Linked DNA regions of Homo sapiens. The protein of the gene in region 1 interacts with the protein of each later gene in a biochemical or structural test. Each region holds a gene or a part of one and is shown on either strand. Other genes may lie near its edges.

Region 1 (7,282 bases):
TGAGGCTTGAGGATTACTTGAGCTCAGGGGTTTGAGACCAGCCTGGGCAACATAGTGAGACTCTGTCTCTACATAAATAACAAATTTAAAAAAATTAGCCAGGTGAGGTGGCACCCACCTGTGGTCCCAGCTACTCAGGAGGTTGAGGCGGGAGTATCCCTTGAGCCCAGGAGTTTGGGGCTGCAGTGAGCTGTGATTGCACCACTGCGCTTCCAGCCTGGGTGACAGAGCCAGAAGCCATCTCAAAATAAATAATAAGGTCTATTCATTTTTTAAAAGATCCTTCTAGAGAAATCATGTTGAACATCAAGGGATGAGTTCCTAGCAATGCAGTTTTGGGGATAGAGGTTTAGGAGTTACGCCATTGTCACTAGCACGTTCCACCGGTTTTTCTGGTGCACACCCGAACCTCCTCCAGTGCCAATCAAACAGATCTGATTCCTTCTTTCAGTTCTGCAAGCATGGCCAGTGACTTCAGGAAGCGGAGGAAGAGCGAGCCTGCAGTGGGTCCACCACGGGGCTTGGGAGATCAAAGTGCGAGCAGGACTAGCCCAGGCCGAGTGGACCTCCCAGGATCAAGCACCACTCTTACAAAGTCTTTCACTAGCTCTTCTCCTTCTTCCCCATCAAGAGCAAAAGGTGAGCATAGTAAATGAAAACACAACAATTTACTAGTTTACGTTTTAGCCTAGAGCACTGTGTGAAAGCTGGCCCAGTGATAGTGGCATGTGCCAGCTCTCACCTACAGTGTCTGGAATAAAATATAGTTTTAGAACAATAGCCTTCTTCCCACCCAGACTGACTCAAGCTGGCGAGCCACTTAGGTTGCTTAAAGAACTCTGACTAGCATCTGCTAATGCTTTTTTCCCCCAAATAGATCCCTTTCTAAACAAATTGAAAGTATCAAATAATGTATCATCAGGCTACTAAAAGATGTATTTTGTAAACATTGACATATAGTCAAAATTTTCTAATGTTTCTACAACTAGCAAATTAGTCAAATTTATAGGATAAAAATTACAAGCAGCAACAGAGCAAATTGTTGGCTAAAATATACATTGGTTTGGAGGGTTTTAAAAAATTATTCAATTCTAGATTTTAAAAAAATCCGACCTATTAATTTCTTTAGCCATTTGCTGTATATTTTGGGCCACCTTCACATGAACAGTGGAGCATCCACCTCCTGCCATGTAACACAGTGGTCAATTCACAGCAGCTCACAGTCAGGACTAATTGGTCCCAAACCATAATGATATCACTGAGGAATCACCAAGCCTTTTTTTCTGGATGGCCCGTCTCCTCTCTGCAAGTGTAGGGAGCTCACTGTTGAAAGAAGTCACTCCTTCTGGTTTCTGGAAGACCATTTAGTGGTATTCCTTGAGGACAGGAATATTTCTGAGATGGAGAGTGAGGATTGAACCAGCCCCTACAGGGAGCTAGGGCTCTACCAAATGTGGGACCCCACAATCTCCTCTAATATCTTGGGATTGAAAGAGAAGAGAAAGAGATTTTGAAATGTGTAAAGAAATTGAGCTCTAATGTAAGTTTCTATAAAACCAGACCAATTCAGCTACACCTATCAACTATAGTCACTAAAACCATTGCCACATGGTAGTTAAAAGTGGTAGCTGATTTGTGTGCAAAAGGTATTCTGGTCGTGATGATTGGACTCTGAGTAGGTGGATGCCTAGCCCTTTTAAGGCCTTGTAAAGCTGTGATATCAGCTGATGGTTCAGGGCGTGTGAGCCCCATCCATCACATCTTTCCTCTGAGGAGCAGAGATGCCTTATCAGATTCAACTCACTTATTCAAATGAATATCTTAAGGTAACAAGTAGGTCATGAAATGCCATTGACCTATTATTCTTGGATACTAGCCAAAAGTTAAAAGGGTTCTGATAAATGTAGATATTTGTTTCATCACAGGGAATGTTAAATCAACTTCCTTTCCCAGACAGTACAGATCTACCTAATGTGCTTATCTACTTTTAAAGAATTTAGAGAACATTGTAAGGTATAAGTATTGAATAGAGATATTTTCCTCCATTAGATTTTATTTCTAGGAAGAAAATGTCCTATTAGATATAATTTGGCTCCTCATTTATTAGTTGACTCAGCAAAGCAAAAGAACATTTCCATAGCTATTCAAAATTGAGGCCAAATGTAGATCTCTATTATCAAATTGCAAATGATTTTTCAAAGAACTCTTCCGAGAAAAAAAGCATGGTATATGCACCTCTGATGAAAGTTTTGCATTATATTCAGTTTTCCTATGAGAATTTTGTACCTAATAAAAGGTTAAAGGTAGAGCAATTTAAGAGGTAAATTCGTTTGTTTAAAGAGCTTTAGCTATTTTTTTCTAGAAAAATGTTAGCAGCAATAGTTCACAGCATTTTGATTTTGCAATTTTGGAGAATACTTTGCCTTATAGCTTTTAAAATCTAAAACCCACAAAAAATTATTTGATATAGTCATGAGAGTATTAATTCGATGTAAATGTATAAACCCTTCTTCACCTATGTATCATTACGAATCAAATGAGGCTCAAATTCCGGCCCTATTAAATTGCGTAAGGGTATAACACTTTTGACACTAATTGTTAAACCTTCACTACCAGATCATGCTATCAGCTGAAGCAGCACTATTGTGTTTTGGCAAACAATATTGTCAGAAAGGTGTATGAATTATGCAGTAGGAGTAGGTGTATTTGCTTACGTCGGTTGCTTCTTATACACAGTTTTGTCAACTCTCTCTGCAAAGCTACATTCACTGAAAAAGTATTAGCTCGCTTTAGAATTAGACCTTCTTCTCTAGAGTTGAAGCTCCATGTGTGAACAATCAGCACCTAGATTAAAACACACTAACTGCTTTCTCCTTGCTATGCTGTCTGATGCTTTACTGACATGCTCTCCTCTCTTTGTGAACCTTTTAACTTCTCCAAATGTCTCTCTTCTACCACGCTGCTCTGGATTAAAAGGTGGGGATGATAGCAAAATATGTCCATCCCTTTGCAGTTACTCAGGGCTCAACGGCAACCCCTCCAGTGAGTTAGATTACTGTAGCACTTACAGACAGCACTTGGATGTCCCTCGGGACTCACCAAGAGCCATTAGTTTCAAGAACGGCTGGCAAATGGCCCGGCAAAACGCAGAAATCTGGAGCAGCACGGAAGAAACCGTCTCTCCCAAAATCAAATCCCGGAGCTGTGACGATCTCCTAAACGACGACTGCGATAGCTTCCCGGACCCGAAAGTCAAGTCGGAAAGCATGGGCTCCCTGTTATGTGAGGAGGACTCCAAGGAGAGCTGCCCCATGGCGTGGGGGTCCCCCTACGTCCCGGAGGTTCGCAGTAACGGCAGATCAAGGATCAGACACAGGTCAGCCCGCAACGCCCCGGGGTTCCTGAAGATGTACAAGAAAATGCACCGCATCAACCGCAAGGACCTGATGAACTCCGAGGTGATCTGCTCCGTGAAGTCCAGGATTCTGCAGTACGAGAGCGAGCAGCAGCACAAGGACCTGCTGCGCGCCTGGAGCCAGTGCTCCACGGAGGAGGTGCCCCGGGACATGGTGCCCACACGCATCTCCGAATTCGAAAAGCTGATCCAGAAGTCCAAATCCATGCCAAATTTAGGGGATGACATGCTGTCTCCCGTAACCCTAGAACCACCGCAAAATGGCCTATGTCCCAAGAGGCGGTTTTCCATTGAGTATTTGCTGGAGGAAGAAAATCAAAGCGGCCCCCCCGCTCGGGGCCGGCGAGGCTGCCAGTCTAACGCCCTGGTGCCCATTCACATTGAAGTCACCAGCGATGAGCAGCCCCGAGCACACGTGGAGTTTTCCGACAGCGACCAGGACGGGGTTGTGTCCGACCACAGTGACTACATTCACCTAGAGGGGTCATCCTTCTGCAGTGAAAGTGACTTTGATCACTTTTCCTTCACATCCTCCGAAAGCTTTTACGGATCCAGCCACCACCACCACCATCACCACCACCACCACCACCGCCACCTCATCAGCTCCTGCAAAGGCAGGTGCCCGGCCTCCTACACTCGATTTACCACAATGTTAAAACACGAAAGAGCCAGACACGAAAACACCGAGGAGCCCAGAAGGCAAGAAATGGACCCTGGCCTTTCTAAACTTGCTTTTCTAGTCAGTCCTGTGCCTTTCCGGAGGAAAAAAAATTCGGCTCCTAAGAAACAGACTGAAAAGGCAAAATGTAAAGCATCTGTGTTTGAGGCTCTGGACTCTGCCCTTAAAGACATCTGTGACCAAATTAAAGCTGAAAAGAAAAGGGGGAGCTTGCCGGACAACAGCATCCTGCACCGCCTCATCAGTGAGCTGCTGCCAGATGTTCCCGAGAGGAACTCATCCCTGAGAGCGCTGAGGAGGAGCCCCCTGCACCAGCCTCTCCACCCACTGCCTCCCGATGGTGCTATTCATTGTCCACCCTACCAGAATGACTGCGGGAGAATGCCCCGCAGTGCCTCTTTCCAAGACGTGGACACAGCCAACAGCAGCTGCCACCACCAAGACCGTGGCGGTGCACTCCAAGGTGGATGAGCTTTTCTTTCTTTTTCCTTGTGGTTCAGAGACCCACCCTCCAGCTCTTTCATTTTCCATTCCAACATCTCATCACTCCCGAGCTGGGAGACCATTTGGCGTCGTTATGTGTTGTGAAGCAAAAACTTGTTGTGCAAATATGTCTTACTGAATATTTCTCATTTGCCCATGTGATATTTGGACTTGATGTGTGGCTTAAAGTGATCATCAATTCACAAAAATTTACTCTTTCGAAAACGAGAGGGAAGGCCATTTTGTAGCTCAGCATTAGGGTTGAAACAACCACTACTCACATTGAGACAATAAATTACGTTGTGACATGAATCAAAACCTATAGTTCCACAAATAGCCTTTTAAAAATGTTTATATTAACGTTAAAACTTTATATTCATTCAGTTAATAAATAATTTGTCACATTCTATATAGAAGATACTATATCAAAACATTCAAGAAGCAAAACTGAAATATGTGATTAGTAATTGATGGACACAAAGAAATTAGGGTTTGTTTAATAGCTTTCTCCATTTCAAGGACACAATGGTGATAAAATTTTTGTGAATGTATCTTTAAGCTATATATATAAAAGTCCCATTTCCACCATTTAGTGTATTCATTTTCTCTTTTCCATTACTTAATTCATTCACTTTCTCTTTCTGCTAAAACAGTCCTGTATTGAAATTTGAATTACACTATTCAGGCTAACAGTGACTCTAAACTCTATTTTCATAGATAACTTTGAAGTGGCAACACAAGAATAAATAGCAATTGAAAGGCAGAGGACTATTTTTGAGATTTATATAACTTACAGCCCAGGGTGTTTTAATATTTGTGACCAATTATTTTCATTAATTCTTACAGCACATCTGTTCACTACGTAAATTTTAAGAGGCTGGAATGAACATTCCGGGCTGAAAGTTGGTCAACAGAGAAACTTCTATGCACCAGACACTACAGAGTGCTTTACATACATTATCTAATAAAACTGGCATAGGCCTATGAAATGGGTGTTATTTCAAAAGCCATTTTCAATTTTGGAAGTTGGGCCCAGAGAGGAAAGGAAATTCGTCCAAGGTCACACAGAGAGTAGATAACAGAAAAGAGATTCAAACCCCTAATAATTCAGAATTTATAGTATAAAATATAATCTCAGACAAAAAAAAAGACATAATTCACAGTTCATACTAGTGTCAAATATGGCTCGATTGTTAATTAACTTGCACAAATCTACTTAGTCTTTATGTTTGCTTTCACTTTTGCTACACTATACACTTACGTTTATCTTTGCCTACCCTTAGGCTGAAGCAACATGCTTCAAAATAATAAATTAGAATTTAAAAAATCAATTTCTACAATTCAAAATTTTCACTAATTGAAATGTGTCAGAATCTCATTTTTTAATAAATTAGCTACCTTCTCCAGGCTTTTAATATCCTAATATAACCATCTCTCAATTTTATGTGCAGATAGGAGTACATTTTTGAAACGTAACTTGGAAGGGCTTTGAAATGCATTTAAAAGTATTTTGTTTTTTAGTAAAATATTTACTTTCCAATTGTGTTTCACCCAAGTGAAAAATAGCTTATATTCCCTGGGTTAGAAAAAGTAATTTAAAATTTATGATCATTATGAGGCCCTATGATCATAAAAGTATATTAACTTAGAATTTACATCATCAAAGTAGTCAAAATCCTAAAACAATGTTTTCTTATTATGAATCAGCACTTTAAATTCTTTCATAGATGGATAAAATAAATTTTATTTTTAATGCTTCTTGTTAGTCTGGATAACTAGATATATTTAAGGGATAAAAGAAAGAATTGACAAATATTGACCCAGTTGTACTGATAAAATTCTATAACATAGACTACTGGAATACATTTAATGTCTAGTTACATCTCCATATGTAAGTCACGTAAGTGCAAAAGGTATAAGATACTATTAAGAACTACATGCAATCAAAATTTTGTAATGTGATTATTTATGCTTTGCTTTAAGATGAACAAAAATAATTCAATATTTCATAAGCAATTTGGCAACTGACATGATGCTTTCTGTTTATCCCTTTTTTGCTTGGAGTAAGAAGAAACAATATCTCTTTGTTTCTTTGCTTTCTGATAAGGTGTTTATCATCTGGGCACAAAGGAAGGTCGTAGATAAACAGCATGGCATCTTGAGATTCAATAAGTATTTAAAAACAGAGGAAGAGCGAAGAGGGGAGAGTAAGGCAGAAGGAGAATGTTCATCACCACCCTCCTGTCATCCTCATACTTTCTTTGGTTTTATCTCTTTCTTTTTCATTACTACAGTCTTAAATTACTCCACAAAATGTTTCTTTTTCTACAAATTGTTGCTATTTTCAAATTCTCCATCCTCTGTAAATCTTATAATAGTAATTATAAATAAGAAGCAAAGGCATAGAAACAGAAAGCTTTGGAAAAAATTTATATGAAAAATCCCTCTAACTATAAATTGTCTTACTGGGTGTGGCAATATAATTAATCAGCAATGTAGTAATCATATTTATATAGACAATTATAATTCTGCAACCTCAGATATTTTTCCTTTTGAAATGCTCTTGTTTTGTGTCTTATTTCACAACTTTGTAATGAACTATGAGTTTTATGCCCATGTGTTCGATAACGGTGTCTCTCCAAATTTGGGGAAAAAAGTAGTGGCCACCAGGGAAAATGGCGGAACAGGTTGGCTTGTAATTAAGT
Region 2 (7,143 bases), on another chromosome or scaffold:
AGGAAGTTTAGTAGTTGCTCGCCACCCCCGCAGCCATTGCAGCCGGGTCCCCGTGTACCGCCGCAGCCCGTATTGCAGGGCTGCCCCCCACCACCCTCTACGCTTCATTTTCATGGGATTTTACCTGTCTGACGATTTTGTGGTCTAGGAGTGCCGCCATTTTGATGTAACTAGAGAATCGGAAACTCTTGCATAGGAACCCTATCTGTCCATGGTTTCCAATTTCCTGTTCTCACCAACATGTTTGCTAACTTAACCAGCTTCGAGTTAGCTTCTCCAAAAGTAGGTATACTTTTCTGCGCTTCTTCTATAGTGAGGGCTACCATGCCACCCACTACCAATAGGGTGCTTTTGAAAGCATGCTCCCAACGCCTGGGTAAGCTGTCTGTATTAGTTTCCTGTGGCTGCTGATACAAATTACTACAGACTTGATGGCTTAAAACAACACAAATTTTTTAATCTTATAGCTCTGGAGGTCAGTCTAAAACCAGTTTAACTGGGCTAAAATCAAGATGTTAGTAGACCGGTGTTCCATTTGGAAGACTCTAGAGGAGAATCCTTTTTTCACTTTTTCTAGTTTCCAGAGATCACCTATAGTCTTTTATTGATGACCACCTTCCTCCATCTTCAAAGTGCATGATTTCAACCTCTGTTTCCATCATCCCATCTTTTTCTTCTGCCTTTGACTTTCTTGACTCCTTCCTATAAGTACCTTATGTTTACAATTGGGCCAACTAGGGTAACCCGGAAGCCCAATCACTGGTAAGGCACCAATCACTGGTTCCAAGGATTAGAACTTGGACATCTTTTCATGGCCATTATTCAGTGATGAAATGAGCCCAGATGACAAGCTCTGGCTTGCAGTAGTGCTTACAGGTGCTATGAGAATACAAATAAGGTAACCAGCCATAGGATATTTAAACAACATTTAAAAATCTCTTAACTAAAAACAAGCATACGAATAACAACAACGAAAAGAAGTGCTATCAGTTTTCCTTACACAATATCATTGTTTGTTTTCAAGTAACTATAAGAATTAGAATATAAATTTCATGGCCAAAGTACCAGATGTATATCATTTTTAAAAAATCTCAGCATCAAATCCTCCTTATTCATCACTCTCTGATTTTATTTTGAGGAATTACCTATCTTCAATTATGTATTCTTGTGGAAGTGTCATAAATCCAGGTGCCCACCCTCCATCCTGAAAGTCGAGAAATCAAACGTTTCTTCTTCCTGTCCTGGTATATATAGCCAGGGAGTCAGTGCCTCCATGAAGTTTGGCCAAGCAAATAAATACTCAACCCTGTGATTTTGAATCTTGATTCAGTAATGGAAGGTGAGAAAAATTTGGTATTTTCTCAAGTAGACTGTGCAGCACCAAACCAAACTGCTGTCTTTCCTGCTTCCTAGCCCATCGGTATTGCCTCAAATCCTGACTGTTTCCAAGACTGCTTTCCAGTCCTCTCTTTAATTCTGGAAGCTTTCAATATTTTTCTAATAAATTATTTTCACTTAAGTTAGCCAACTTTGGTTTCTGTCACCTACAGTCAGAAAAACCTAATAATAGCAATGTTACATCGATATTATTGTTGCTGGGTTAAATCTACCATAACAATTTTGTAAGAAAATTGATTTTCCACTTCAAGTAATTTTATTCACTGAATTCATCTAATTTGAGTTAGGGCCTGACAATGATACTGACCTTCTTATTTATGTGATGTCATTGGAAGAATCTATGGATTAAACGTGGTTAGATACCAGGATTAAGCTCTAGTATTCAATAGTACAGCAGAGGAACTATATAGTTTAATTTATTGTATATTTCAAAATAGCTAGAAGAGAAGAATTCTAATGTTCCCAATACGAAGAAAAGATAAATGAGGTGAGGGATATCCCAATTACCCTGATTTGATCATTATGCATTGTATATATATACCAAATTATTGTATCTACCTGCAAAATATGTGCAACTGTGATATATCAATTTAAAAATTAGAAAAGAAAATCTATTAATTAAACATATTTACAAATCTGGAAAGGCAAATTTTCCAAATTATGAAGGCTATTATCACATATCAGTATTTTGCCTTTTCAGGGAATCCGATTTGAAGTGTCCCTATAATAATTCTTTTTTTTTTTTTTTTTTGAGAGTCTCGCTCTGTCACCCCGGCTGGAGTGCAGTGGTGTGATCTCGGCTCACTGCAATCTCCACCTCCCGGGTTCAAGTGATTCTTATGTCTCAGCCTCCAGAGTAGCTGGGATTACAGGCGCCCACCACCAACCCAGCTAACTTTTGAATTTTTAGTAGAGATGGGTTTTCACCATGTTGGCCAGGCTGGTCTTGAACTCCTGACCTCAAGTGATCTGCCCATCTCGGCCTCCCAAAGTGCCAGGATTAGAGGTGTGAGCCACTGAGCTGGGCCCCTATAGTAATTCTTGAATTGTCTGAGAATATCTTTTAGATCATTGCTAAAGCGTCGGTGCTCATGATATTACAATGCTGAGAATTTACCTCCATTTAGTGGTTTCAGTAATTGTTATTTTCTTTAATGGAAAATCACTCAGTGAAATTGCAGGAAAGAGGTTATTTATCTGAGTCATATTTTTATGAAAACTGTTTTTCACTTCCTTGCATTTTTAGAAGTGTTGTCTTTAAAAGGATATTCTATTAATATTTATAATTAGACATCACACAAAACAGATGCTAAATCTTATGCTATAACTTCTGGATAAAATTACATAAAGATTATGTACTTTTTGGCATAATATTCCCTCAGGAAGCTGTAGAACAAAGGACATTCTCCATGAAGATGCCATTTCTTTTTTTAATAGAAGGAAATAATAAGGCAGTGATTAACCACGATTATTTTAACTACTGTAACGTTTGCAATTAAGTGGGCAGCGCAGGAGCTCAATAAATACTTAATTGATTTACTTTTTTCTCTCCTTGACCCACATCGCAATTCACCCACTCACGCCGCTATCCCTATTCTAACTTTGAAACCAAGTGGATTCTCTCTGTTTTCAGTTTGTGGAAGCGTGGTGCTCAGCCTGTGTGGAGGGGCCTGGCTTCCAAGTGTACTTGGGGTGGAACCTGGGGACTTTACCGAGGGCACAGGTCAGGAGATGAGATTCGTTTCGCTTTTTGAATTACCTTTTGGCCTGTACCAAGATGAACTGGTGGGATATATAGTGTCATCGAACCCGGGAGAGTTGTTGTGGAGGTGAGGAAACAGCTCTGAGGGATAACGGTTTGAAAGTAGTGGCGCTGGGGACGAACATGGGTCCCTGCGAGTCTGAGACTCTCTATTGCCCCCATCTCCTTGCTGCCGATTACTTCTTCAAAAATTCTCCTAGGGACCCTGAGGAGGGACGGGAGAGGTCAGCAAACCCTCTGTCCACCAACTTGATTTCCTGTGATACAAAGTGTCATGAGTTCTCCTGCTTTCCTCCCTTAAAAAAGACAAGATTAGGAACAACGGCTGGCAAGAGAGGAGGGGAAAGCTTAATTCTCCACAGATGCTGCGCAAGGGAACCAATGGGTCACGCCCACTCACGGGTGGCCGCCTCTCTGTTCCATCCCGGGGATGTTGGGCTTTCCCCTCGGTCCGGGGCGAGCGCACTTCCCACCCGGAGACTGAGCGGGCAGCACTCGCAGGCCAGGAGCGCGTTCCGGGAGGCGCCGGCGCCTCCCCGCGGCCTGGGCGCACGTGCCTGGGCTGGGGCCGGAGCCCGCGGTCGCGCCGCGCCGTAGTAGCTGGGGCGGGTGGGAGCGGCTGGCTCCGGGCCGCGGCCGCCGCCCGCCCGCCGGCTCCGGTGGTTGGGCGGAGGAAGCGCGGGACTCCTCCTCCCCACCGTATTAACATGCACCCAGGGGCGGGTCACCAGCCCAGCCTTGCAGCCCCAGCCCGCCGCGTCCCGGCGCTCAGCCTCCGCTCCAGAGGCGAGCGCTGCGCTTCGGGCGCCGCAATCTCCAGGACACGGCCTCGCGGACACCTTCCGCCTCGGGGAATCGGCAGCATAGGCGGCGCGAACGGCCGCCGCCGCCTCGGCTCCTCTCTCGAGTCCTTCCCGTCACCTCGCTGAGAGCCGGTCCTGGTCGCGGGGACATCTCTCTCCTTCCTCCGAGGCTCGTGGGACCAACGGACGGACGCAGCCAGCGAGGGCCGGACTGCGGGACGCGGCCAGGTAACGCCGGGCTGCGCCGCGGGGCTGGGGCGTGCGCGGCGGCGGCGGTCGCGGCGCGCTGGGTGGCTCCTGGCTGCTGCCTGCCGCGCGGTCGCCGCTTCCCTCGCCCGCGGAGGGGCTGCGGGCTGGGCTCCCCCGGCCGCTGGCTCGAGAGTCCGCGCTCCTTACCCTTTCAGCCGCCCGGGGTGCACTCCCGGGCCCTCCGGGTAACCTGGGATCTCGGGGGCGAGCGCGTCCTCTCCGGCCATGCGGTCCTCGCGGCTCCCCACGGGGACCCAGGCAGGGGAAGGATTTCTAATTGCGACAGGGTCCCGGAAGGGGGAGGGGAGGAGAACACCGGTCCCCTGTCCCGGTCATGTCCACCGGTCAAATTCGCACCCCCACCCCACCCCCGATGCACCTTGCAGGGGAGGAGGGGGCTGCTCCCCGCAGGGCTTTCTCGGCAGGCTCCTGGGTCGTTTGCAAAGCAAGTTGTTGCACTAGCTTTTTGGGTGACATTTTGGCATTGTGGAAAAGGACCAACTCCCCCGTGCGTTTGTAAGAGAAAGCCAAAGAAACAGAGACACAAAGACAGGCACAGAGAGAGAGAGAGAGAGAGAAATGGGGTCCAAGGAGGAGGTCACTGGAGAGTCGCCCCCTGCCCGCGGCCAAGGCCAATTCCCGGAGAATCGCGGGGCGGGCCGGGAGACCCGACATTCAGCGAATTGAATGAGCCGGGCTGGAACCAAGGCCAAACAGGGACCTCTCCTCTGGGCTGGGCGAGATAACACATTGCACTTTCATTGAGGGGCGGCTGCAGCTGGGAGAGGCACCTTCGGAGGGCCCGCGGCGATGAAGACCCTGCTTTCAGGACTTCGGCTGCTGCGCTTTTTGCGGAAGGCGCGCTGTCCCGGCCTCGCTGGGTGGCACCGGGAGGCCGTGGGAAGGGGTGGCCCGTGGCTCGGCTGCCGGCGCCGGAGACACTGAGTGCCTGTGTCCGAGTGCCGCGCTCGCCCCCGGCTGCAGGGCTTGCCTCCAGCCCGACCGTAGCGCTGCGGAATTTTCTGCTAGAGAAGGGGAGGATGTGCGGAGGGCAAGGGGTTAAAGGTAGCCAGGCGGCAAGCAGTGGGACGCTGGGTGGGAGATGTCACGTCTTTTGTGGATCCAGGCGAGACTCTTCACTCCTTACTCCTGACACAGAGACTGACTCCCGGTCGTGGGAGGTGAATGCTCCCTGCCTCCTTCCATAACACGTGAAGTTAGGGAATTACGAGGAAAGACATATAATAAAAGTACCAATTAAAGACAGATCTTTTAGCTTTTGTGGTCTTCGTGAATGGCTTCGTAGAAGGTGAGGATAGATCAGTCTAAGATGTGGTTAGACATGGAGATGAGAAATGCTGAGAACTAGGAAAGCGATTTTAGGTCCTAAGGCAAACATCCTGCAAATTATTTTTTACCCTGAAAGAGCTGTTCTAAAAAGAACAGCCCTTTGACTGTTATTTATAGCACGATTTCAGTTCAGGAAACGACTTTCTATTGGCCTAGGTCATTTTGCATATAAAGCAATACTTTTTATTCCTTGAATAAAACTTGAACGGAAATGACATGGAGGCAAGAAATTTTACAAGATCCTAATTTATTTCATGCCAGAAGAATATAAAGTTTTCTTTAAGTTTTTAAAAGGAAATTCAAGCCTATAAAGAAATAATGAATATGTCTATGCAAAATGTATGATTTTAAAAAGTTTAAGTTATAAACGCTACCCTTGGTTCAGAAAATTCATACTCTGGCATGAAACAAGAAAGTTCATAGAAGTCAGGTGTCAGTAGCCCTGTTCTTAATTTCCTTTAGATTTAGTACTTAAATGTAAAGTTGTTTCAGTTGGTTAGTGCCTTGCAATACCCCTAGTCGCAGATATAAAATTCTGTGAATTTTTAAAAAACTAATTTACTTAAGAGAAAATGTTAGTTACCTTGTGTGAGTAAAGAAGAATGTACTTGCATACATAGATTTTTTTAAATTTATAGCTATCTATTTCTCTATATTTCATTCTAAGATTAGTCTGCAAATACAATACTTTATCTCAAACATTACAGGCAATATAAATATGGGCAAAAGGAACTGGTTAACATTCTTTTAAATATGTCAAAATAATTTTCTGACAAGGCTTCTTAAATCTCACACAAGCAATTGTGCTTTGGGGAAATAATGAGTATATGAGTTTTCCCTAGGAGGGAATTTTCATGGTTTAGCATCTTTAATTTCTCCATCAACATAAGCTTTGTTCTGCCAGGACTAAAAACCCAGTAAAAGCATATTAGCGATTAGTGAAAGCAAATGGAGACAAGACCTTCCTTCCAAAATATTATGTAGCGCATATAGAGAAATAGCCTAAAACTAATTGTAGTGTTCTACTTTTTAAATCCTTCTAAGCTTAAGTGTCCTATTCAACCCAATTTGGGAATAGAAACTGCATGCACTTTGAGTTAACTCTATTAAATATGTGTGCCTTTGTTCCATATAGCCATTTAGATTGATTTTTTTTAAATATAAAATTAAAACTTGGAAGAGGGGGACTTGTTTTACAAAGTACTCATTTTAGTGAATATGAGCAATATTCACTAATATGCAGCAAAGTAATAGTTTCATCTACAACTTAATCGAGATGAATACCATATTCTTTGAACATCAACTCTTTCAGAAACAAAGAATTCAGTGTTTTGATTCTGATCTCGTAATATTTCAAATTCAGAGATAATAGTAAAATGTTATCTAATGTGTATTTCTATAGTGAAATTTCTATGATCAGCTCAAATTCATGTTACCTTCATGACCATTCCCACAAATTGCTCCACTGTTTATCAGAGGAGAGGAAATTGGTTTCCTCTCAGGAAGCATCCAATTAAAATCTACTTTTATGTAGATTTCATCTCTATAGAAATCACACTTACCTCTCTTTTCTTAAATTAA

The links. Proteins that work in one complex are often made in the same cells at the same time.
Region 2: the proteins of SORBS2 (region 1) and DLGAP1 form a complex in vitro, tested with the Homo sapiens proteins (one study listed by BioGRID).

Annotation. Positions count from the first base shown.
Region 1 is NC_000004.12:185,620,189-185,627,470, reverse strand, and holds part of SORBS2 (sorbin and SH3 domain-containing protein 2), read left to right. Parts: intron 1-451; coding exon 452-639; intron 640-2,976; coding exon 2,977-4,557; intron 4,558-7,282. UniProt on the Homo sapiens protein: Adapter protein that plays a role in the assembling of signaling complexes, being a link between ABL kinases and actin cytoskeleton. Can form complex with ABL1 and CBL, thus promoting ubiquitination and degradation of ABL1.
Region 2 is NC_000018.10:4,452,054-4,459,196, reverse strand, and holds the start of DLGAP1 (disks large-associated protein 1), read left to right. Parts: upstream 1-3,889; 5' UTR 3,890-4,191; intron 4,192-7,143. UniProt on the Homo sapiens protein: Part of the postsynaptic scaffold in neuronal cells.